5 separate regions of the Homo sapiens genome follow, and regions 1, 2, 3 and 5 are each linked to region 4. Evidence: fine-mapped expression QTL. A gene starts in region 4. Each other region holds a variant in brackets. All regions are shown on one strand. Distances are between the middles of the regions. Region 1 holds the start of OR10H1 (olfactory receptor family 10 subfamily H member 1). Region 2 overlaps CYP4F22 (cytochrome P450 family 4 subfamily F member 22). Region 3 holds the start of CYP4F22 (cytochrome P450 family 4 subfamily F member 22). Region 4 holds the start of RASAL3 (RAS protein activator like 3). Region 5 overlaps AKAP8L (A-kinase anchoring protein 8 like).

The links. PIP is the estimated chance that this variant, and not a neighbour inherited with it, causes the effect.
Region 1: its variant is fine-mapped to the expression of RASAL3 in whole blood (INTERVAL, PIP above 0.99).
Region 2: its variant is fine-mapped to the expression of RASAL3 in whole blood (TOPMed, PIP above 0.99).
Region 3: its variant is fine-mapped to the expression of RASAL3 in whole blood (INTERVAL, PIP above 0.99).
Region 5: its variant is fine-mapped to the expression of RASAL3 in whole blood (INTERVAL, PIP above 0.99).

What each region holds. Positions count from the first base shown.
Region 1 is chr19:15,811,434-15,816,535 of GRCh38, forward strand. OR10H1 (olfactory receptor family 10 subfamily H member 1) reads right to left here and starts at 4,231. Exons shown (of 4, transcript NM_013940.4): 1 at 4,122-4,231; 2 at 797-1,445. The variant TTG/T (reference allele first, on the strand shown) is at 3,012.
Region 2 is chr19:15,540,689-15,545,789 of GRCh38, forward strand. CYP4F22 (cytochrome P450 family 4 subfamily F member 22) reads left to right here. Exons shown (of 14, transcript NM_173483.4): 8 at 1-29; 9 at 3,283-3,349; 10 at 3,462-3,591. Among named protein-coding and RNA genes, the nearest start is that of CYP4F22, 35 kb to the left of the region's middle. The variant T/C (reference allele first, on the strand shown) is at 2,170.
Region 3 is chr19:15,504,246-15,509,347 of GRCh38, forward strand. CYP4F22 (cytochrome P450 family 4 subfamily F member 22) reads left to right here and starts at 4,280. Exons shown (of 14, transcript NM_173483.4): 1 at 4,280-4,338. RefSeq lists an enhancer at 3,924-4,424. The variant AAT/A (reference allele first, on the strand shown) is at 2,785.
Region 4 is chr19:15,462,595-15,467,696 of GRCh38, forward strand. RASAL3 (RAS protein activator like 3) reads right to left here and starts at 1,950. Exons shown (of 18, transcript NM_022904.3): 1 at 1,911-1,950; 2 at 1,437-1,783. The coding sequence starts at 1,764. RefSeq lists enhancers at 1,174-1,313, 1,414-1,543, 2,184-2,293.
Region 5 is chr19:15,407,374-15,412,475 of GRCh38, forward strand. It overlaps AKAP8L (A-kinase anchoring protein 8 like), which reads right to left. Exons shown (of 14, transcript NM_014371.4): 2 at 3,147-3,221. Among named protein-coding and RNA genes, the nearest start is that of AKAP8L, 9.1 kb to the right of the region's middle. The variant CTTT/C (reference allele first, on the strand shown) is at 2,576.

The sequences.
Region 1 (5,102 bases), 350 kb after region 4:
TTTAGTAGCATCCCTGGTCTCTGTCAACTCAATGCCAGCAGCCATTGCTCAGTCATGACAACCAAAAAATGTCTCCAGAAAACACCCATGTCTCCATGGGGCTCAAAGTCACCCCCAGTTGAGAACCGCTGATCCAGAGAGTGCAGCCGCAACTCCTTCACACCCTCCCTCTGCTGGGATCCCCATTCCTCCACTTCTTCACCTGGCAAACCCCTGTTTGTTGTTAAGATTCAGCTTAGATGTCACCTCTTCCATGCAGTCCTCCTGGATATTTCTTCCCAAGGCATATTAAGCCACCCATTCCTGGGTGCTTTCAAAATAATGATTCCCAGTTAATGGTAACAGCAGGCATTGGTTCAATTCTCGCTCTGTGCCTCCTACAAGTAACTTTAAAGCTCCTTGCTCATGACTTTGTTATGATGTTTGCCGTGATATGTCATGTTGGAGCTGTGTCTATCCCTGGAACCTGATTGTGAATCCCTGAAGCCAAGGACTGTTGTGTCTACAGCACCAGTGCTGTGTACTCAACAACAACACCGATGAGAGCAGCTGCCCTTTACTGGATATGTCCTACAGACCAGGCACTGCACTCACATCACTCATGCTATTCTTATTGAATATTTACCCCCACATTAGAAGTCATCTGCTCTGATCCCTATTTTACAGACAGGGAAACTGAAACCCACGACACATCACTTGCCTTAGGTGCCTTGAGTCTGAAGTGGGGGCCCAGGGTCTGAGCTTAGGTCTGATTGATCTCAAAGCCTGTCTTTTCCTAACCTCTTGTTATACTCACCAGTTGCTGGTGGCTGTTTCAAAGGCCACTAGGAGATGCTGCTTCCCCATGACTGACCGTCTACACACTCTTGTTCATATCAATTCAGATCACAAGAATCGACAGCGAGTGAGTGAACAAGGTGGGGGGAGAGAGAGAGAGAGAAAAGGAGGAGGAGGAGGAGGAGGAAAAGAAAGAAAAAAGGGAGGAAGAAAGAGAGGGAGGGAGGGAGGAAGGAAAGAAGGATAAAAGGAAGGAAGGATGGGGACTGCAGGAGGAAGGAAGGAGGGAGGGAGGGAAGGAGGAAGGAAGGAACGAAGGAAGGAAGGAAGGAGAGTGAGGGAGGAAAGGAGGAGAGTGAGGAAGGAAGAAAGGAGGGAGGGAGGCAGGAAGGAAGGAGAGTGAGGGAGGAAAGAAGGAGAGTGAGGAAGGAAGGAAGAAAGGGAGGGAGGGAGGCAGGAAGGAAGGAAGGAGAGTGAGGGAGGAAAGAAGGAGAGTGAGATAGGAAGAAACGAGGGAGGGAGGAATGGAGGGAGGAAGGAAGGGAGGGAGGGAGAAACCTTGAGAGGACAGGAGCCGATCACGTCTGTAGGAGGTAGCTGAGGGCTGCATGTAACACCGTCTGGAATGATGGGATGCAGAATGCAGCTAAAAGGGTAGTCCAGTCATTCTGGAAAAATCAAAACCATGGAGACAGCAAAAGATCAGTGGCTTCCAGGGGACCAGTGGGTGAGAGGGAGGGATGAATGGGTGGGGCACAGAGGGTTTTTAAGACAGTGTAACTATGTTGTGTGATACTGTCATGGTAGATACAGGACATTGTGCATTTGTCAAAACCCAGAGAATGTACAGCCCCAAGAGTGAACTCTAATGTAACTGTGGATTTCAGTCAATGACAATGTGTCAACACTGGTTCATCAGTTGTAACAGATTAATGGTAAAAAAAAAAAAAAATCCCAGTTGCTAATTATAGGGGAAATTGTGTGCAGGCGGAGAGAGGGTATATGGAGATTCTCTGCAGTATCTATCTGCTCTATGTTCTGTAAATCTGAAACTGCTCTTAAAATAAAGTCTATTAATTTTAAAAAGTAAAACAAAACCAAACCCATGGTGGATGTGGGACTAGGATAGCAGCGAGGAGGATTTAGAGCTTCTGGGCATTGATTCACCAGCAGAACATCCAGTGGGTTCCTCTGTAGGTAAAACAGAGAGAGAGAAAGGTAGGAAGAGAAAGAGAGAGATGGGGATAGAGAGAGAGGCAGGGGAAGAGAGAGAGAGAGAGAGAGAGAGAGGAGGCGAGGGAGAAACAGAGAGAGAGAGGTGGGGAGAGAAAGAAAGAGAGGTGGGGAGAGAGAAAGAGAGAGACAGAGAGGTGGAGACACAGAGAGATGTGGGGAAAGAGCACACACAGAGAGAGAGAGAGATGGAGGGAGAGAGAGAAGTGGGGAGATAGAGAGTGGGAGGTGGGGGGAGAGAGAGAGAGAAGGACAGGGAGAAAGACACAGAGAGAGGTGGGGAGAGAGAAGTGGGGAGAGAGACACAGAGAGTGTGGGAGGTGGGGAGAGAGAGGGTTGGGGAAAGAGAGAGAGAGACAGAGAGAAGGGTGGGGAGAGAGAGAGAAGTGGAGAGAGAGGGAGGTGGGAAGAGAAACAGAGAGAGGAAAGAGAGGTAGGGAGAAAGAGAGGACAGAGGGGAAAGAGAAGAAAAAGGTGAGAAGAAAGAGAGAGAGCAAGCAAGCCCACTGTCTAGCACTGACAGGAACACCCGGTGGGGCCAGTTCTCCACTCAGAGACTCTAGGGCTAAGCGTGGCTGTGGACAAGTCCTGCCACAGACATCCCTAGAGCAGGGTTTCCTGCCTTCAGCATTAGGGACGCTAGGGGCGAATCATTCTCTCTCAGAGGGGTGTCCTGTGCACTGCAGGAGACTGAGCAGCATTCTTGGTCTCCACCCACCAGATAGATACCAGCAGCACTCCCCAGTCACGACAATCAGAAATGTCCTTATACGTTGTCACGTGTCTCCTGGGTGACAGCATCACTCCATGGGCCAGGCCTGTCTTGTCTCTGAGACCCCATCTGGCCTTAACTCTCACCCATCCTGGCTCTCTCTTCTTAGTGAAGCTGTCTGGCCTCCCCTCTCTTCCACTTAAGCCACCACTTCCCTCTCTTTTCTCTCCATCTTCTCATCCCCAGCTCCTAACCATTCCCTCACCACCTGCTCCCATTGACGCCTCCC[TTG/T]TGTGTGTGTGTGTGTGTGTGTGTGTGTGTGTGTGAGAGAGAGAGAGAGAGAGAGAGAGAGAGAGAGAGAGAGAGAGAGAGAGAGAGACAGGGTATCCCTCTGTCACCCAGGCTGGAGTGCAGAGGCACAATCACAGCTCACTGCAGCCTTAACTTCCTGGGCTCAAGCAATCCTCCCACCTCAATCTCTGGAGTAGCTACAGGTGCCTGCCATTCCTGGCCAATTTTTGTATTTTTTTGTACAGACAGGGTCTCACTATGCTGCCCAGGCTGGCCTCAAACTCTTGGACTCAAGTGATCCTCCCACCTTGGCCTCCCAAAGTGCTGGGATTGCAGGCATGAGCCACTGCACCCGGCCCACCCTGATTCTTTACACCCTGGGGTGGTGGCTGGAGCTTCTGAACCCTGAATCCTCTTTCTCTCTTTTCTCCGCCTCTTCCCAATCCTTTTTCCGTAGACTTCTTGCCTGGACAGACCGAGAAGAGAGGTTAAAATCAAACCATCACCTTGGGTCACATTGAGCATTGGCTGTCTTCTCTCTGCACCTGTTACCTCCCCCATCCAAGGGACCTACCTCATGAGGCAGCAGGAGCTCTAAAGAAGGCAAGTCCTGGCTGGGCACGATGGCTCATGCCTGTAATCCCAGTACTTTGGGAAGCCGAGGCGGGTGGATCACGAGATCAGGAGTTCAAGACCAGCCTGTCCAGCATGGTGAAACCCCTGTCTCTACTAAAAATACAAAAAATTAGCCAGGCATGGTGGCACGCACCTGTAGTCCCAGCTACTCAGGAGGCTGAGGGAGAAGAATCGCTTGAACCTGGCAGGCGGAGGTTGCAGTGAGCCGAGATTGCGCCACTGCACTCCAGCCTGGGCTACAGAGCGAGATTCCGTCTCAAAAAAAAAAAAAAAAAAATAGAAGAAGGTAAGTCCTGCTAAGCAAACAGCACACTGACTAAGACGTGGTGAGTGGCCTCTGCCTGTCACCCACTGCCCTGTAGACTCACATTGCTAAAGGAGTAATATAAACAGGTGGTTTCTTGGAGTCCCTGGCAGGTGCTGGTTCCCCAGGTCTCTCCTGGTCAGGTGGCTGAGAGGGGAGGTGACTCACCTGGGACTCCAGGCATCTGCTTCTGCTTCATCCCAGTAGGAGGCTCTAGTTTGGAGTTTCTCCACAGGTGGGAGCTGACCAGGTGTGGGCTGCACCAAGCAGCCACACCAGCTGAGCCGGGGGCTTGACTGAGCCCAAATGCGATTATTTATCCCTCCCTGACTCCCTGCCCACCGGCTTCCCTCGCTGTGGTCCTACTGTCTCTGTCTCCGCTACAGGGATGCTGGGACCCCAGGGACCCTGCCAGAGAGGAGGCAACCTCAGGGAATCTGTATCCTCACTTTCCCATTCCCCCCGCCTGCCAGGGGTGAGTCAATTCCCTGAGCTTGTCAAGAGCTTGAGCAGAGTCTAGTGCTCTACAGATTTGGGGTTTGGGCCCATGACTGTTGAAATTGACAGGAGGGCAGCCCTGCCATTGCCCCCAGGGACTGCAGAGGCTGCCTTGATATGCCCCGTCACCTTCATTCTTCTCCAACTGGGTCATTTGCCCAACTAAATGTCCTTTAAAATAATTTTTTAAAACCAACACACACACACGTATTTGTTTTTATTTTTATTTTTTGAGACAGGGTCTAGCTCTGTTGCCCAGGCTGGAGTGCAGTGGTGTGATTATGGCTCACTGCAGCCTCAACCTCCCAGGCTCAAATGATTCTCCTGCCTCAGCCTCCTGAGCAGCTGGGAGTAAAGGTGCTTGCCACCACACCTGGGCTAAGTTTTAATTTTTCTGTAGAGATGGGGTCTCGCTTTGTTGCCCAGGCTGGTCTTGAGCTCCTTGGCTCAAGGGATCCTCCCACCTTGACCTCTCAAAGTGCTGGGATTACAGCTGTGAGCCACCATGCCTGGCCTGTTTCTTCTTATTATGTAATTGAAATGCTACATACAAAGCAGCAAACCATGCAATGGCCAGCCAGGCAATCGTGACGGTGAATTTAATGGGTATCCCTTCAGATCTTCATGAGCATGTAGGATGTGAAAACAATG
Region 2 (5,101 bases), 78 kb after region 4:
ACTTTATTGATGTGCTGCTCCTGGCCAGGGTGAGGCTGGGCCCCCTGGAATTGCTGGCCTCCCGAGGGCTGGCCTCCCGAGGAATTGCATGTAAAATGATAAGTGTTAAAACTCCATTAGGCGTGGTGGCTCACACGTGTAATCCCAGCGCTTTGGGAGGCCAAGGCGGGAGGATCGCTTGAGCCCTGGAATTGGAGATCAGCCTGGGCAACACAGGGAGACCCTGTCTCTACAAAAAACAAATAAGTTGGGTGTGGTGCCGCATGCCTATGGTCCCAGCTACTTGGGAGGCTGAAGCAGGAGTCTGGCTTGAGCCCAGGAGTTGGAAGCTGCAGTGAGCTATGATGGTGCCACTGCACTCCAGCCTGGGCAACAGAAGCGAGACTCTGTCTCAAAACAAAACAAAACAATACACATGCTCAAAACAAAAAGAAATTCACATGGGTCTGGGATGGGGTCAGAACATGTAAGACTTACTGCGTGAGTTTTCTTGGGCTGCTATTACAAAGTACCACAAACTAAATGGCCTAAACATCAGCCATTTATTCTCTCACAGTTCTGGAAGCTAGAAGTCCAAGATCAAGGTATCTGCAGGGCTGGTTTCTTCTAAGGCCCATGAAGGATGAATCTGTTCCAGGCCTTGCTCCCTGGCTTGCAGAAGGCTGTCTTCTCCCTATGTCTGCGGATCATCTTCCCTCTGTGCCTGTCTCTGTCTTCGTCTCTTTGTATAAGGATTAGGGCCCTGCCCTAATGAGTTCATTTTGTCTTGATTACTTCTGCAAAGACCTCTCTCCAAACACGGTCATAGCCTGAGGTACTGGAAGTTAGGACTTATGAATTCTAGCGGAGGGGGGGTGGGCAGGGAACCATTCAGCTCATCACAATTGCAAAAATGAAATACATGACCTTGGGCTGGGCGTGGTGGCTCATACCTGTAATCCCAGCACTCTGGGAGGCCAAGGCAGGTGGATCACTTGAGGTCAGGAATTCGAGACCAGCCTGACCAACATGGAGAAACCCCATCTCTACTAAAAATACAAAATTAGCCGGGCGTGGTGGCACACACCTGTAATCCCAGCTACTCGGGAGGTTGAGGCAAAAGAATCACTTGAACCTGGGAGGCGGAGGTTGCGGTGAGCTGAGATCATGCCATTGCACTCAAGTGAAACTCCGTCTCAAAAAAAAAAAAAAAAAAGAAAAAAAAGAAATACATGACCTTGAAGAGATGAGACACTTCTATGGTCACTCATTGGTGTGTCTGTGGACCTTTTGGGTTCTGGATTCAAATAGTCCTGGATTCCAGTCCTGGCTCTGTCGCTTAGTGGATGTTTGACCTTAGTCATTGACTCTTCTTCCCAAGCCTCAGTTTCTCCATTTATACCATGGTGATCATAAAACCTGATCACAAGGTTGTCAGGCATCCAGTGGGATGCTTGGTGTTGGAGGCTGCTCAAGAAATATGAACTTCCTTCTTCTCCTCACTGTTGACTTTCTGTCCCTCTTTACATCTTTCTTTTCTTTTTTCTTGTTTTTTAAAAATGTAATTTAAAGTTCCAGGATAAGCCGGGCGCAGTGGCTCACCCCTGTAATCCCAGCACTTTGGGAAGCTGAGGTGGGAGGATCACCTGAGGTCAGGAGTTCAAGACGAGCCTGGCCAACATATTGAAACACCGTCTCTACTAAAAATAAAAAAAAAATATTAGCCGGGCGTGGTGGCATGCATCTGTAATCCCAGCTCCTCTGGAGGCTGAGGCAGGAGAATCGCTTGAACCCTGGAGGCAGAGGTTGTAGTGAGCCAAGATTGCGCCACTGCACTCCAATCTGGCAACAAGAGAGAAACTCCATCTCAAAAAATTTTTTTTTAAATTAAATGGAAAGTTCAAGGATACGTGTGTAGGGCGTGCAGGTTTGTTACGTAGGTAAACATGTGCCATGGTGGTTTACTGCACCTATCAACTCATCACCTAGGTATTAAGCCCTGCATGCATTTGCTATTTATCCTGATATTCTCCCTCCTCCTGCCACCCTGATAGGCCCCCCAAGTGTGTGTTGTTTCCCCCCTGTGTCCGTGTGTTTTCATTGTTCAGCTCCCACTTATAAGTGGGAACATGTGGTGTTTGGTTTTCTGTTCCTGCCTTAGGTTGCTAAGGATGATGGCTTCCAGCTCCA[T/C]TCAGGTCCCTGCAAAGGACATAATCTTGTTCCTTTTTATGGCTGCATAATATTGCATGGTATATATGTACCACATTTTCTTTATCCAGTCTTTCATTGATGGGCATTTGGGTTGATTCCATGTCTTTGTTATTGTCAATAGTGCTGCAATGAACATATGTGTGCGTGTATCTTTATAATAGAATAATTTATATTCCTTTGGTTGTATACCCGGTAATGGGATTGCTGGGTCAAGTGGTATTTCTGGTTCTAGGTCTTTGAGGAATTGCCACATTGTCTTCCACAATGGTTGAACTAATTTACGTTCCCATCAACCTTGTAAAAGCGTTCCTATTTCTCCACAGCCTCACCAGCATCTCTCACTCAGGGTCTTGCTCTGTCACACAGGCTGGGGTGCAGTGATGCGGTCATGGTTCACTGCAGCCTTGATCTCCTGGGCTTAATCCTCCTGCCTCAGCTTCACCAGTAGCTGGGACTACAGGCATGCATCACCACACCTGGCTGATTTTTTTTTTGTAGAAATGGGGTCTTACCATGTTGCCCAGGCTGGTCTTGAACGCCTAGGCTCAAGTGATCCTCCCACCTTAGCTGCCCAAAGTGTTGGGATTATAGGTGTGAGCCACCATGCTGGGCACTTTCCATCTTTATTAGACAAGTTGCATACTTCCATCTTCCTGGACTAGTTCCCCCCACAGCTTGGCTTAAGAGAGAGAGGGGAGCCAGGCGTGGTAGCTCATGTCTGTAATCCCAGCACTTTGGGAGGATGAGGCAGGTAGATCACTTGAGGCCACGAGTTCGAGACCGGCCTGGCCAATATGGCAAAATTGCATCTCTACTAAAAATACAAAAATTAGCTTGGAGTGGTGGCATGTGCCTGTAATCCCAGCTATTCAGGAGGCTGAGGCACGAGAATCACTTGAACCTGACAGTCGGAGGCTGCAGTTAGCCGAGATTGTGCCACCGCACTCCAGCCTGGGTGATAGAGCGAGACTCCATCTCAGAAAAAAAAAAAAAAAAAAAGATGGGGGCGGGGAGATATCTGAGTTTTGAGGAGCCCCTAGGATGCGGAGGGTGGGATGAAGTGGGCTGAGCACCCTCTACTGCCCATTCCAGGATGAAGATGGAAAGGAACTGTCAGACGAGGATATCCGAGCCGAAGCAGACACCTTCATGTTTGAGGGTGAGGATGTGGGGTGAGGCTGGAGGAGGGCAGGAAGGGACATCATTGTCTGTAGACAGCATCTCTGCTTTCTTCAGGCAGCCTCCATTCAGATACCCTCATCTCCCTGCAGGTCACGACACAACATCCAGTGGGATCTCTTGGATGCTGTTCAATTTGGCAAAGTATCCGGAATACCAGGAGAAATGCCGAGAAGAGATTCAGGAAGTCATGAAAGGCCGGGAGCTGGAGGAGCTGGAGTGGTGAGTGTGGGGTCAGGGGAATGGAGGGGGCAGGTTGAGGCCAGAGCCTTGGGTGTAAGCCTCTGCTCTCCCACTTACTGATTGTGTGACCTCAGACAAGCCACTTTAGCTTCCTGAATTGCAATTTCTTCAGCTACAAAATGGGGGTGGTTATAGTGCCTATGCCCACCTCATAATGCAGAAGTTCTCAAAGTGTCCTAGTCAGCAATTATTGCAATGATGCTGCATAATGAACAGCTCCCAAACTTAGTGGTTTACAGCAAGCATTTGTTTCTTGCTTTTGTATGCACACATTTCTTGCTCTTGTCTGCTCATTACTCTAATTGCTGTTGGACTTGGCTGAGTGGAGTGGAGTTGCTTCAAAACTAAGAGCTGGGTTCAGATCTGCTTCATATACTCCCTTTCTGTTCTCTTTGGACCAGAGGCTACCCTGGGTCGTATTCTTCTCAAGGCAGATTCCAGAAGCACAAAAAGCCATGAAATTTAAAAGCTTTGCTTGGGCCGGGTGGGGTGGCTCACGCCTGTAATCCCAGCATTTTGGGAGGCCGAGGTGGGTGGATCACCTGAGATCAGGAGTTCGAGATCAACCTGGCCAACATGGTGAAACCCCATCTCTACTAAAAATACAAAAATTAGCCAGGTACGGTCATGGGTGCCTGTAATCCCCCCTACTCGGGAGGCTGAGACAGGAGAATCACTTGAACCTGGGAGGTGGAGTTTGCAGTGAGCTGAGATTGCACCACTGCACTCCAGCCTGGGCTACAAGAGTGAAACTCTGTCCCCACCCCCCCACAAAAAAAGATAAAATAAGTAAATAAATAAAATAAAAAAAAAAAACAAAAGCTGTGCTTGCACTAGAAGATTGCATTGGCTAAAACAAGTCACGTGACCAAGCCCAGCATGAATGGGGCAGGACATATACTCCACTCACCTGAGCAGAAGGCACTGAAGAATCATATGACAAAGGGTACAGGTATATAATTCTAATTCAGGGAGGAAGTGGAGAATCAGAACACATACCCAGTCTCTACCAGATTCATGCTATGTAGAGCTGATTCTGGGTGATGAAAAGAAAACACAGCATTAGGCTGGGCGTGGTGGCTCATGCCTGTAATTCCAGCACTTTGGGAGGCCGAGGGGGGTGGATTGCTTGAGCTGAGGTGTTTGAGACCAGCCTGGGCAACATGACGAAACCCTGTCTCTACAAAAAAATACAAAAATTAGCTGGGTGGGGTGGCGCATGCCTATAGTCCCAGCTACTTGGGAGGCTGAGGTGGGAGGACTGCTTGAACCCAGGAGGTGGAGGCTGTGGTGAGTCAAGATTACGCCACTGCACTCCAGCCTGGGTGACAGAGTGAGACCCTGTCTCAAAAAAAAAAAAAAAAAAAAAAAGAAAAGAAAAGAAAAGAAAAGAAGAAAAACACAGCCGCAACATTAAATAGCATCAACTCACACAGTGAGGAGGTTCCTTTCGGTTCTATTTCAACCTTTTGCCTTATGGCCTCAGGGG
Region 3 (5,102 bases), 42 kb after region 4:
GGGTTCAAGCGATTCTCCTGCCTCAGCCTCCCGAGTAGCTGGGATTACAGGTGCCCGCCACCGTGCCCAGATAATTTTTGTATTTTTAGTAGAGACAGGGTCTCACCATGTTGGCCAGGCTGGCTCAACCTCCTGACCTCAGGTGATCCACCTGCCTCGGCCTCCCAAAGTGCTGGGATTACAGGCAAGAGCCACCTCGCCCGGCCTTTATTCTTTTTTATGACTGAGTAATATTCCATTGTATGGATGGACCACAGTTTGTTTATCCATTCATCTGTTGGTGGAATTTGGGTTGTTTCCACCTTTGGCTATAATAAATCGTGCTATCCCGAGCACTCCTCTACAATTACGTGTGAGTAACTGTTTTCTTTTCTCTTTCTTTCTCTTTATCTCTCTCTCTCTCTCTCTCTCTCTCTCTCTCTCTCTGTCTCTTCTTTCTTTCTTTTTCTTTTTTTTTGAGACAGGGTCTCATTCTGTAGCCAGGCTGGCGTGAAGTGGTACAATCTCAGCTGACTGCAATCTCAGCCTCCCAGTCTCAAGCTGTCTATCCTCCCACCTCAGCCTCCCAAGTAGCTGGGACTATAGGTACGCACATCATGTCCAGCTAATTTTTTATATTTTGTAGAAATGAAGTCTTGCTATGTTGTTCCCCAGGCTAGTCTGGAACTCCTGGGCTTAAGTGATGCTCTCTTGCCTCAGCCTCCCAAAGTGCTGAGATGACAGCTGTAGACCACTGTACCTGGCAAGTACTTGTTTTCAGTTATTGTGTGTGTATACCTAGGAGTGGAATATCTGGGTCCTATGGTAATTCTGATTAGCTTTTTGAGAAATTCCCAAACTGTTTTCCACTGTGGCTGAACCATTTTACGTTGCCACCAGCAGGGTATGGCGAGATCCCTCTTCTTTTTATCTTTGACTCCCTGCCATGACCTGCCACATCCACTCCCAGACAGCTTTCTACTACCATTTCCCAAGTCCAGCCACAGCCTCCACTTCCTCCCCTCCCACTTCAACCTCACCCCACTGAGCCCTGGGCTGTGGCAGGCTGAGGGCTCTGGTGGCATGGGAACCACACAGCTCTAGAGCTTGGGTTCCTTGACGTCTAGGTGCCAGTGATGGTCCCTACTACCACTCTTCTCAAACTCCATCTCCAGCTCCAGCTCAGTGCTGCTGCCTGTCCTCTCTATAAATGTAGCTATTATCTCTGAGGTCAGGAGTTTGAGACCAGCCTGGCCAAAATGGCAAAACCCTGTCTCTACTAAAAATACAAAAATTAGCCGGGCGTGGTGGTGCAAGCCTGTAATCCCAGCTACTCAGGAGGCTGAGGCAGGAGAATTGCTTGAACCCGGGAGGTGGAGGTTGCAGTCAGCCAAGATAGCACCACTGCACTCTAGCCTGGGTGACAGAGCAAGACTCTGTTTGATTAAAAAATAAAATAAAAGGCCAGGCACGGCAGCTCATGCCTGTAATCCCAGCACTTTGGGAGGCCAAGGCAGGTGGATCACTTGAGGTCAGGAGTTTGAGACCAGCCTGGCCAATACGGCGAAACCCCGTCTCTACTAAAAATACAAAAATTAGCCGGGCTTGGTGGTGGGCACCTGTAGTCTCAGCTACTCGGGAGGCTGAGGCAGGAGAATCGCTTGACCCCGGGAGGCGGAGGTTACAGTGAGCCAAGATTGTGCCACTGTATCCAGCCTGGACAACAGAGCAACAGAGTGAGACTCCATCTTAAAAAAAAAAAAAAAGTGGCTGTGATCCCCACTTCTGCCCTCCCCTCCTCTTCTCTGCCCACCTCCCTCCTGAGTGATCTCGCTGACCTACTGCCATGCCATCCACCGTCTTCCCAAGGCAGGTGACTCACAGATGCAATTCTCAGGAGGTGCCCTCACGCTGAGCCCAACTGCCTCCTGGATGTCTCCCTGAATGTCATCCCATGAGACCCACGAGACTTTTAGACTGAAGGTGACCCACGGTTTCCCAATCTTAGCACTGTCAACATTTGAGCCTGGATTATTCTTTGGGGGTGGGGGTGTTCTGGATGTTGAATAATATCTCTGGCCTTCACCCACTAGATGTCAGTTGCACCACCCTGAATTCCCCCACCCCCACCTCTACCCCCCACCCAGCAGTATGATCTCCTGATGTTGCTAAACATTCCCTGGCGGAAAACTCTACTCTGCTGGGATGGCCCCAATCAACTGCAAACTCAAACAGCTGATGTTTGTCCAGCCTGTGCCCTGTGCCAGGAGTGGGGCTGAACACCACCTCATCACATGGGCTTCTTCTGCATTTTATGCATAGGGAGATGGAGGCTCAGAGCAGCCATGTGACTAGCTCAAGGCCACACATCCACGAAGCCCACTCTTAGTGCTCCAGGCCCTTTCACTTACTCCTCCTTCCTGGTCTCCAGCTCTTTGAGAGCAGAGAAGCCAGGCAGATGGCTTCTTTTCCTTCTCTCTTCCCTAGAACCCCGTATTTAGCCAGTGGTCAGTGGAGATGACCTCCGGGACCTCATCCTTAACCCCTTCCTGGGTCTCAGCTACCCCCACCCTTTGTCTCTGTCCCCTGCAGCCACTGGAGGGGTCCCTCTCAAACTTCACTCTATGTGGATCTCTGCATTTTCCAAAGTGCTTCTAGTAAGCTCCCCCTTGGCCAGAATTACTGGCAAAACAAAATTCATATCCCTAAAAAATAGGCTTTCATGCTGCGTTAATTATGAATAAAAAATTAATAAAATAAGCTCTTCCTCAGAAGTAAAAAAGATTAAAGACACAAATAAATATA[AAT/A]ATTTTTTTTTAAAAGTTCTAGGAGCTGGGAGAATGGCTTGAGCCCAGGAGTTTGAGACCAGCCTGGGCAACATAGTGAGACCCTGTCTCTAAAAAAATGAAAAAAAAAAATTAGCTGGGTGTGGTGGCACGTGTCTGTAGTCCCAACTACCCAGGAGGCTGAGGCAGGAGGATGGCTTGAGCCCAGGAGTCACCCCAGCCTGGATGACAGAGTGAGACCAATCAACTAACAGGGGGCACCTCCCCTACTCAAGCACCATCCATGGCTCCCCACTGCCCACCAGATCAAGATCCAGCCATTCAAACTGGCCTTCACAGTCAACTCCTGCATCCCTCCAGCCTCCACACCTCTCACACTCCAAGGCCAGGGAAAGCCATCTGCTAAGTCACACCCTCCAGTTTCTCTGTGCTTGAGCTCTACCCCCTCTCCTGCACTTGTTGAAATCCAACCTCTCCATGCAGTCCCAGCTCAAGTGTCACATCCTCCACGTCGCCTTCCCTGACCTCATGTCTGCCTCCTCCAAGCAGCAAAACTTCAATTACTTGTGTCTCCTCTTCTTCACCAGGAGACATGCCCCACACCTCCCACGCCCTCTTTCCAAGGGCCCAGCACCAAATGAGAGCGTATTCTTAGAAAAAAGAGGGATAAGGAAGTCTTCTAAGTTTACCACCTGCTGGGGCAAGTGGAGATTCTTGTCTTCTCATCTGTCTGCCCACGTGCTAAGGTCAGCCACACATCCACCCACCGACTCCGGAGGACAGACACATCCAGAGGCGGAGCTGACTCTGTCTCCACACATCTGGAGTAGACGGGTTGGCCAAGGACAACATCCTGGTCAGAGGGTCAAGGTGTCTGGCAGTGGGTGGGGAGGAGTGGCGGAGGGCGGGTTGGCGGGGAGCAGAACCAGTCTGGTGCTGCTTGTTGAGGTTGGAGGTCTTCCTGGAGGAAGAGGCTGCAGAGCCTCCAGGGGTGGGTGCCGGGGAAGCTTAGGCCCAGGATCCAGAGAGAGGGGAAGGGCTGGTTCCCAAGGGCTGGTGGAGCCAGAGAATTCCTGAGGGCCCCAGAGGAGGCTTCTCGGGGGGGTCAGTGGGGCCCCAGGGGGTGATGGTTTAGAGATCGCTGTCCAAGCTTGGGAGCAAACCTGGAAGTAAGGGCCATGGGGGGTGTTGGTGTGGGAGGAGTGTGGTCCAGAGCGGGACTTGGGCGCTAATGCGGCCCAGCAGTGGCAGGAGGGCGGGGAGCCTGATGGTTTGGGACTTCTAGGTGTCCAAGTCTCTGTCTCTCTTCATCTCTCCATCTCAGTCTCAGTCTCTCTCTCTTTCCATCGCTCTCCACCCCTCCACACGCCTATTTCTTGTTCTCTCCTTTTCTAGGGGGCAGCGCTGGAGTCCCCGCCCAGAACCCTGCGGGAGCCCGGGGCGGGATGTCCGGGGGCGGACCCCTCGGCACGGCCGGGCGGGGTTAAAGGGTTGGGCCGTGGGACGGCGCGGTCAGATCCCAGGTAGTGGCGCCGGTGGATCCGGATCGAGGGCAGGAGGCTGAGACCCGCGGGTGAGTGCGCGCGTGGTGAGGGCTGTAACCTGAGCGCGGCCGCGGCGCTGCGCTGGAACCCGAGGCTCGCGCGGTTCGGTGCTGGCGGGGCAAGGGCGAAGGTCTGCGCGCGGCGGCGGGCGGGGCGCAGCCGGCCACGGGGACCCCCCCAGGACCCAGGACGGGGCTGCATGCCCGGGGCACTCGTGGGGAGAGGGGCACGTGGGTGTGTCCCCGACGTTTGCTGCATTTGTGAGTTGTTTTCTTTTTTTTTTTTTCTGTGTGCGCCTCGGAGTCCTAGGCGCATCCTTTTCTCTGGGTATCTGTGATGGGCAGGGGGCCTCCAAAAGACCCCTCTGGTAGTCAGGACATCCCAGATGGGTTCAAGCCCCGCCCTGGGACGCCTCTTTGGGGCTGAATGGGGATTCGCCCTGAGATTTCACCACTGCACGTTGTCTTGACGGGGAGGTTGTAGTACATTCAACCGATGGGGTTAGGCTTGTGGTTCAACTGCTATCAGGAACCCTCTGCCCATCCATGCCAGACGCAGAGCCCCTCTATGAAAAGACGGTGTTCTTCTGGCCCCGAGAGTTGGCTCTGAGGGTTGTGTGAGGTCCTGGGGTTGGTCCCAGGTGATCTTCGTCTGATAGATGCTGGAAGGAAGATGTTTTCTGGCCTCCCAGGGGCCTGGCCCAGCCTGGGTATGCAAGTTGGCCGAGGCTGGCCACCTGGGGAGTCGCAGGCTGGAGAGGCCTAGGCTCAGGGCATCTCTCCTGGTTCATCTG
Region 4 (5,102 bases):
CCTTGTTTTTACCACCAGGAGCAATAAATGATAACTCCCGCTTATTAACGGATCACTTAAAATATGTTGGGCCTGGGGCCGGGCGCGGTGGCTCACGCCTGTAATCCCAGCACTTTGGGAGGCTGAGGCGGGCGGATCATGAGGTCAGGAGATCGAGACCATTCTGGTTAACACAGTGAAACCCTGTCTCTACTAGAAATACAACAATTAGCTGGGCATGGTGGCGGGTTCCTGTAGTCCCAGCTGCTCAGGAGGCTGAGGCAGGAGAATGGCGTGAACCCAGGAGGCGGAGCTTGCGGTGAGCCGAGATCGCGCCACTGCACTCCAGCCTGGGCAACAGAGCGAGACTCCATCTCAAAAAAAAAATAAAAAAAATGCTGGGCCCTAGGCTAGTGTTACATTCCTGAGCCCTAATTCTTGTGATATCCATTACTCTTCTAGATCCCCCTGTGTGACACTTAGCACCATCTGTCATTTTTTTTCTTTCTTTTTTTTTTTTTTCTTCCATTGAGATGGAGTCTCCCTCTGTCGCCCAGGCGGGAGTGCAGTAGTGCAATCTCAGCTCACTGCAACCTCCACCTCCCGGGTTCAAGCGATTATCCTGCCTCAGCCTCCTGAGTAGCTGGGAGTACAGGTATGTGCCACCATGCCTAGATACTTTTTTTTTTTTGTATTTTTAGTAGAAACAGGGTTTTGCCATGTTGGCCAGGCTGGTCTCGAACTCCTGAGCTCAGGTGATCCACCCACCTTGGCCTCCCAAAGTGCTGGGATTACAGGTGTGAGCCATCATGCCTGGCCCATCTGTCATTTTCTTGTTGATGGATTTCCTGTCAATTCCACTACACTGTGAGCTCCATGGGGCAGGGAGGGTCATCTGTCTCTTTCACTAGTGTGTCCTCAGTGCCTAAATCAGGGCCTGGCACATACAATAGAAGCTCAACAAACCTCTGCTTGAATAAATGAATGAATATGAGCAAATAAAATTATATACTCTCCAAAATGGAGATCATTATTCTCACTGAACTGATGGAGAGGCTGAGGCTTAAGGGCTCAGAACAAAGACACGGAAGCTAGAAGGTAGGAGAGTAGGAGGCAGGCTGAAGATGGATATCCAGGTAGGAAAGGATGGGCCTGAGCCATTGAAGGAGAGACCCGTTGGGGCCAAGAGCCGTTTAGCCTCTGGACAATACTATCACGGGTTTACATTCACTGTTCCTTCCTCAGATGGACCCTCTGCCCACAGGACCCCGGCAACTCCTCCTACCCTCTTTAGGGGGAAAGAGGGAACAGGGTAGCTGGGCCCCAGCGGCTTCCTGCTGGGCTTTTGCACTCCCCACAACTTCCTGTGTCTGTATGGTTGATGCTCCGGAGGCAGACAAAACCCAAGCATCCGGCTTCCCAGCCCGGCCCAAGCTCAGGGTGGGGGAACCATGTACCTGGGGCCTCCTGCTCCGGCTCCGGGTCTGGCTCCGGCGGTGGGTTCTTATGCCTCCCCCAGAGGGCCTTGGAGAGTCGAAGGCGACTGGTCCGTGACTCCTTGGGAGGCGCAGATAGGACCCGACGGAATATCGAGCGAGGGGCTGGCTGGGTGCTGACCATGGGCTCCTGGTGGCTCAGGGCCCTGCCCCAGCCAGCAAAGCGGCCCCAGCGGAACCCTCCAGCCGCCTTCTCCCCACCGCCCCCTGTGTGCCAGCGGTAGGAAGTCAGCGGAGAGGTGGCTGTGGGCTGGGTTTGGGAGGTCCGGCTTGGCGACGGTGGGTCCATGGTTGGGGGGGGGGGTCTCCTGGGGGACGAGAGAGTGACAGTAGTGCCCAGTGTCTGTCCACATACTGCCCTCATCTCGGCCCCCTCCCCACCCTCAGCTCTGCCTCCAGGAATCCCCCTGCCCCCACCTCCACTCCCTCCCTTACCTTGGTTTCCTGACCAGCCCCAGAATCAGCAGCCGTCTGCACCCCGCCTGGCTTCCTCCCTCGGAACCCAACTCCACGTGACCCTCTCTGTCCCACCCCACCCCACAGCCAGGCTGGGAGGGCACAGTGCGGGCAGGTTGCTGGAGGTTCGAGGGAGGAGAAGAGAGGAGGTGGGTTACCAGGCTTCTAGCAAGAAGGACCCAGACTGCCTCCCTGACGGGGAGGCAGCACTTGCCCCTCTCTCTGAGCCTCCGTTGCCTTCTCTGCAAAATGAGTACAGGCTGAACAAATGCTGGCGAGAATACAAAGCACCTAGAACTCTAATCCACAGTTGGCCGGAGTGTAGACCCATTCACTCATGTTGGGAAACGGTTTGGCAGGATCTACTAACACTACTAGCTGGATCTTCTCTGACTCAGCAATTCCATTGCTAGGTAGACGTCCAATAGATATGCCCCCCCAGCACAATGCATAATAGCCCCACATTGGAAGCAGCCTAAGTACCCATTAGTGGGAGAAGGAATAAATTGTGATCTCTTCGCACAGCAGAATATCATACAGCAGTGAGAACAAACTAAAGAATGATTTAACTTGGGTGAATCACAAACAATGTTGAGCCAAAACCAAAACCAAAGCCATAAAATGCCAGTAATCTGAGCTATTCAGGAGGCTGAGGGAGGAGGATCGCTTGAGGCCAGGAGTTCGAGGCTGCAGTGAGCTGTGATCATGCCTGTGAATAGGCAGTGCACTCCAGTCTGGGTGACATAGGGAGACCTCATATCTAACTTTTTTTTTTCTTTTTCCCCTCCCTGCCCTCGGGAGACCCCATCTCTAAAAAGCAATAATAAATAAATTTAAAAACCCCAAAACAATGAAGAGTATACACTTTGTGATTCCATTTACATAAAGTCCTAAAGCAGGCAAAACCATGTCTAACAAGCAGGGTATCAGTTTCTTTTGGAGGCACTGGTGGCTGGGAAGAGGGTACAAGGGGGGCTTCTGGAAGATGGCAAGATTTATTATTACTCTTATTATTATTAATTGATTTATTTATCGAGAAGGAGTTTCGCTCTGTCTCCCAGGCTGGTGTGCAGTGGCACGATCTTGGCTCACTGCAATCTCTGCCTCCCGGATTCAAGTGATTCTCCCTACTCAGCCTCCTGAGTAGCTGGGACTACAGGTATTCACCACCATGCCTGCCTAATTTTTTTGTATTTTTAGTAGAGACGGGGTTTCACCATGTTGGTCAGGCTGGTCTTGAACTCCTGACCTGAAATGATCTGCCCGCCTTGGCCTCCCAAAGTGCTGGTATTATAGGCGTAAGCCACCGTGCCCGGCCCTTATTATTATTATTATTTATAAATGAGGTCTATAAAAATAATATAGATCTCATAAAATAAAAATATAATATTTATATTACATAGTAATATAAATAATATTACATTATACATAATATGAATATTATTATTTTTTGTAGATGAGGTCTGTCATCCAGGCTGGAGTGCAGTGGTGCCATCATAGCTCTCTGTAACCTCTAACTCCTGGGCTCAAGAGATCCTCTCGCCTTAGCCTCCTGAGTAGCTGGGACTACAGCTGCATGCCACCACACCTGGCTTATTAAAAACAATTTTTTTGTTGTTGTTGAGATGAGGGTCTTGCTTTGTTGCCCAGGCTGTTCTTGAACTCCTGGCCTCAAGTGATCCTCCCACCTCAGCCCCCTAAGTAGCTGGGATAATAGGCACATGCTACCATGCCTGGCCTATTTTTTTTTTAATTGAGGTAAAATTCATATAACACAAATTTAGCATGTTCTTTTTTTTTTAATAAGATTTTTTTTTGAGACAGGGTCTTGCTCTGTTGGCCAAGCTGGAGTGCAGTGGCACAATCACAGCTCACTGCATTCTCAACCTCCTGGGCTCAAGCGATCCTCCTACCTCAGGCTCTCGAGTAGCTGGGACTACAGGTGCATGCTACCTGACTAATTTTTAACTTTTTGTTTGTTTGTTTTTTGTAGAGATGGGGCCTCACTATGTTGCCCATGCTTGTCTTGAACTCCTGGGCTCAAGCAATCCTCATGCCTCAGCCTCCCAAAGTGCTGGGAATACAGGAATAGCATCAGCCTCTGTGCCCAGAGAGACGAAGCCTTGTTCTGTCACCCAGGCAGGAGTACAGTGGCTATTCCCAGGCATGATTGTGGGTCACTGCAACCTTGAATTCCTGGGCTCAGGCAATCCTCCTGCCTCAGCCTCCTGAGTAGCTGGGACTGCAGGTGCATGCCACCATGCCTGGCTAATTTTAATTTTTTTTTTTTTGTAAAGAGACAGGGTCTCACTATGTTGCCCAGGCTGGTCTCCTACTCCTGGGCTCAGGCAGTCCTCCTGCTTCAGCCTCTGTAGTGGCTGGGACTGCAGATGTGTGCCACCACGCTTGGCTTAACATGTTCTATTTCTTGAGCTGGGTCCTGGTTACATGGCTGTGTGCTGTTGTGAAAATTCATCAAGCTGTGCCCTTGGGAGCACTTTCTTGTATCTCTGTTAGGCTTCCACAGATGTTTACTTGAAAGCCAGAGGTAAGTAAATGCCATTCTGAGGAATAAATGAGTCAGCATAAATCCGGTCCAGGAGCCGAGTACCAGCTGGCCCCTCTCCCTCTGTGTGACCTCAGACAAGTCATTTCCTCTCTCTGAGCCTCGTTTTCCTTATTTGTACAAGACGATAATATCAGTTTCAAAAGATTCATGTAAGCCTTTGTCTAGTCAACAAATGTTTCCCGAGTGCCTATTACATGCTAGGTGCTGGAGAGGCCGCAGAGAACTAACCAAACTTGGTTTCTGCCTTCCTGGAGCTCACAGATGATGGAGGTAGATAAGATCCTAAACTCATACATGAGACATTTCTAGCTGGTAAGGAGGACCTAGAAGGAAATAGGCTGCAGTGAATGCTGAGCAAAAATGCCACTCTTTGAGCTGGAAAAATCAGGGAGGACTTCCCTGAGGAGGTGACATTTGCAGCCATTTGTATCTAGCAGATGGAGTCCACTATGTCTGTGTAACAAGCATTCCAAAAGTGCCAGTGAATTAACATGTCCCTGAGAGCAGCCCTCACATAATAACTGGTGGGAATTAGTGTATAAATACCCCAGCTCCCTCAACCCTTGTGTGGGATGACTCAGGTATGTGTCCTATGCTCTCCC
Region 5 (5,102 bases), 55 kb before region 4:
ACTGTTTTTCAAAATGTTATTTAAATGTTATATTGTTCTTGCAATTCAAGCCAGAAGGAAAAATAAATCCATCTCTATTCTTTCACAATTGTGTATGTAAAAAAATCTCAAACAAATCTACAAAAGAGCTACTAGAATAAGTGAGCTTAGCAAGGTTTATTACAAGGTCAATCTGTAAGTCAAATTTCAAATATTACAAGGTAAACCTACAAATCAAATAGCAATCAAATTTCTATATATCAGCAATGAATGGAAAGTTTTTAAAAGTACCATTTCCTATAGCACTAAAAGCATGAAAAACTTGGCGTAAATCTAACAAAGTATGTGTAGGATCTGTGTTGAAAACTACAAAACACTACATCAGTGAAGTGACATACTGCACTCATGAATCAGAAGACTTGATATTGTTAAGATGTCAATTTTCTCAAACTAATCTATAGATTCTACAGATTTGATAGATCTATAGATCCAAGGCTCTCTCACTCAAAATCTCAGCATGAATTTTTTAAAAAACTTCATAAACTGATTCTAAAATTTATATGCAAAAGCAAAGAAACTAACAATTTTGGAAAAAAGAACAAACCTGGAGGACTCATATTTCAAGATTACTATTAACCAGTAATCAAGACTGCATTGCTGGGCGAGGCGCAGTGGCTAATGCCTGTAATTCCAACACTTTGGGAGGCCGAGGCAGGTGGATCATGTGAGGTCGGGAGTTTGAGACCAGCCTGGCCAACATGGTGAAACCAGTCTCTACTAAAAATACAAAAAGACCGTGCTGCTGAACGAAATTTAGATGTACAGACCAATGGAACAGAATGAGAGTCCAAGAGTCCAGAAATAGACCCACAGTATATGGTCAACTGATTTTCAGTAAAGGTACGAAGGCAATTCAATAGAGAAAATATAGGCCTGGCACAGTGGCTCACACCTGTAATCCTAGCACTTTGGGAGGCCAAGGCGGGTGGATCACCTGAGATGGGGAATTCAAGACCAGCCTGGCCAATGTGGTGAAACCGTCTCTACTAATAATACAAAAATTAGCCAGGCGTGGTGGCACATGCCTGTAATACCAGCTATTTGGGAGGCCAAGGCACAAGAATAGCTTGAATCTGGGAGGTGGAGGTTGTGGTGAGCTGAGATCGCGCCATTGCACTCCAGCCTGGGCAACAAGAGCGAAACTCCATCTCAAAAAAAAAAAAAAAAGAAAGAAAGAAAGAAAGAAAGAGGCCGGGCGCGGTGGCTCACGCCTGTAATCCCAACACTTTGGGAGGCCGAGGCGGGAGGATCACGAGGTCAGGAGCTCGAGAACATCCTGGCAAATACGGTGAAACCCCGTCTCTACTGAAAATACAAAAAGATTAGCCAGGCGTGGTGGCGGGCAACTGCTCGGGAGGCTGAAGCGGGAGAATGGCATGAACCCAGGAGGCGGAGCTTGCAGTGAGCTGAGATCGCGCCACTGCACTCCAGCCTGGGGGACAGAGTGAGACTCTGTCTCAAAAAAAAAAAAAAAGAAAGAAAAAATGGTTTTGTTTTTGTTTTTGTTTTTTAAACAAATGGTGCTGGAACAATTATATATTTATATGCCATAGAAGAATAAGAAACCTTAACCTATACTGCACACCTTGTAGAAAAATTAACTCAATATGGATCACAGACTAAATGTAAAACCCACAACTAAAACACCTAAAAGAAAATTCTAAAGAAAATATTACAGATTTCTTAGATATAAAAGCAAAACCATCATCTATTAAAGAAAAGATTGAATTGGGCTTCAAAATTAACAACTTGTGTTCTTTCTGACACAAGACAAGACACACTGACAAGAGAATAGACAAGCCACAGTCTGGGAGAAAATATTTGTAAATGGCATATCCGAGAAATGGCTTGTACTCAGAATATGCAATCCAGAGGGAAAATAATTCAAAAGGATGTGCAATTAGGGACTACATTTGATGAAAAGGGAGAGGCAGGGAGGGCAGCACAGGGAAGTCAAGCAAACCAAGTTTCTCCTCATTTATGAGACACCTGATACCTTCTCACTCAATTTCAAAATATTTTAAGTCTTCCCTTTTCCTGGGACTAGCTGCTGTTACTTGGGGAGCTTACTTAAGTCTCTTTATGCAGTGACCCCTGAAGGCATGTTAGCTGTGTAGGATCAGTCTTTCCCCAGATCTTGGTAGTAAAAGAAATTACCCATCTCAGTAACTAAGACATTATCCCTGTTAATTCCAAAGAGGGCTCCTTCTCAACAGATACCCCTAGAGTCACAGACAACCAAAAACCAGCTTTAACAGCAGTCCGGGCTGCCACAGCACACAAACAAAACAGCATCTGTGAATCCTACTGGTGGCTACTTCTGAATTAGCTAATTAGGTGTTTCTGTCCACGCTGGAAAACTCAATCAGAGATCTTCACTCAACTCTGTGTGTGTGGAGCCTGCTGGCTTGAGGTGGCCTGGCTGAGTCTCCAAAAGCTGCCAGATTCACACACTCAGCCTCTCTCCCACAGCAAGGACATGCACTATGCTGGGACTAAGTTAATAGCTTGCTTTCTCCTGGACCAATCCTTTGGA[CTTT/C]TTTTTTTTTGAGACAGAGTCTTGCTCTGTTGCCAGGCTGGAGTGCAGTGGCATGATATCGGCTCACTGTAACCTCTGCCTCCCGGGTTCAAGTGATTCCCCTGCCTCAGCCTCCTGAGTAGCTGCGACCACAGGCACACACCACCATGCCCGGCTAATTTTTTGTATTTTAGTATAGATGGCATTTCACCATGTTGGCCAGGATGGTCTCGATCTCCTGACCTCAAGTGATCCACCCGCCTCGGCCTCCCAAAGTGCTGGGATTACAGGCAGGAGCCACCGCGCCTGGCCTCCTTTGGACTTTAATTGGCCACTGTGACTCCCAGTCCCTCCCCCATGGGGATTTGAAGCCAGGCCTTTTATCAAAGAGCCTAACTTGCTCAGGAACACAGCTACTTTTCCCATAATTGCCTGAAAGGGAAGCACTAGCTATTCAAATGGCCACACCATTTCACACAAGTTTAGGTTTAAAAAAGCATGACAGGGTGACAGCAAAGCCAAAGGCAACTAAGAAGACAAGGAACTGCTCTGCAGAACACTTTGGTTCCCACCAGAAGTCCACACTTACCATAATCACAGGTGGGCTGAGCGCTGGTATCCGAGTATGTCGACTGCAAAGTGGTTTCAGATCCCTGGACAAAGCCTAAACATAAAGACAGTGGGGTTAATTTCCACAAGCAAGTCACAGGGAAATGACCTGAGACTACCTAACCTTTGGTATAGGATTGCCAGCAGGCCCTTCTCTCAACGAAAAGCCACCAAAACCTCTAGATTCCACAGTTTAATTAGACCGTCAGAAAATATTACCCAATGGAAAGGCAGGCTATGTTTAACTTGCTATACCAGGAGGACTAGATTAAAAAATTATTTATTTACTTTTTAAAAACAAGGTCTCACTCTGTCCGGGCTGCAACGCAGTGGCATGATCACGGCTCACTGCAACCTCGACCTTCCAGGCTCAAACAATCCTCCTGCCTCAGCCTCCCAAGTAGCTGAGACTATACGTTCGTGCCATCATTCGCAGCTAATTTTTATACTTTTTTGTAGAGATGGGGTTTCATCATGTTGCCCTGGCTGGTCTTTAATTCCTAGGCTTAAGCAATCCACCCTCCTGAACCTCCCAAAGTGCTGGGATTACAGGTGTGAGCCACAGAGCCTGGCCCCAAATAAAAATTTTTAAACATTTAAGCCAGTAGCCTATTTTGAGAAATGAACACCCAAGTTATCATTCTGTTAAATGAGGAAACTATTCAAATCCCTGAAGGGTGAGCCACTTGGAATTCAAACAAGGATGGAGGTTAGCTTCAAAACCATGTTAAAGCAAATAATACCCCCCTCCCTGTTCTAAATCTGAAACAGAAACTGCTTTTTATTTTGGTTTTCCCATTAAAAAGTGTGTATAACAATTATAACAATTATTTCTGGGCCGGGCAGTGGCTCATGCCTGTAATCCCAACACTTTGGGAGGCCAAGATGACCAGCCTGGGCAACAGGGTGAAACCCTGTCTCTACAAAAAAAAAAAAAAGCCAGCTGTGGCAGCATGTGCCTGTAGTCCTAGCTACTTGGGAGGCTGAGGTGGGAGTGTCACTTGAGCCCAGAAGGTCAAGGCTGCAGTGAGCTATGATTGCGCCACTGCATTCCAGCCTGGGTGACAGAGCAAGACCCTGTCTCAAAACAAAAACAAAAACAAAAAACAATTATTTCTTAAAAGTAATTATTTGGGGTGGCATGGTCATATGGAAATAAGTATTATTATATATACATAAAATTTCCTATCTTCTCAACTTTCAAACTATTTCTCAACATAAAATGAATTAGGGCTGGATGCAGTGGCTCATGCCTGTACTCACAGTACTTTGGGAGGCCAAGGGGGGGTGGACTGGTTGAGGCCAGGAGTTCAAGACCAGCCTGGCCAACATGGTGAAACCCCATCTCTACTAAAAATACAAAAATTAGCTACTAAAAATACAAAAATTACAGGGCACAGTGGCTCACGCCTGTAATCCCAGCACTTTGGGCGGCCGAGGCAGGTGGATCACGAGGTTAGGAGTTCGAGATCAGCCTGGCCAATATGGTGAAACCCTGTCTCTACTAAAAATACAAAAATTAGCTGGGCGTGGTGGTGTGTGCCTGTAGTCCCAGCTGCGCAGGAGGCTGAGGCAGGAGAATCGCTTGAACCCAGGAGGCAGAGGTTGCAGTGAGCCAAAATCATGCCACTGCATTCCAGCCTAGGCGACAGAGCAAGACTCCGTCTCAAAACAAACAAACAAAACCCCAAAATTAGCTGGGTGTGGTGGCACCTGCCTGTAATCCCAGGTTCTTGGGAGGGTGAGGCAGAAGAACTGCTTAAACCCAGGAGGCGGAGATTGCAGTGAGTGGAGATCGTGCCACTGCACTCAAGCCTGGGTAATAGAGCAAGACTCCATCTCAAAATAAATAAATAAATGAAATAAAATAAAATGAGTTAGTGCCAAGTAAGGAAAACTTCTACCTCTATCAGAAACCAGTGCTCCTACAGACTAT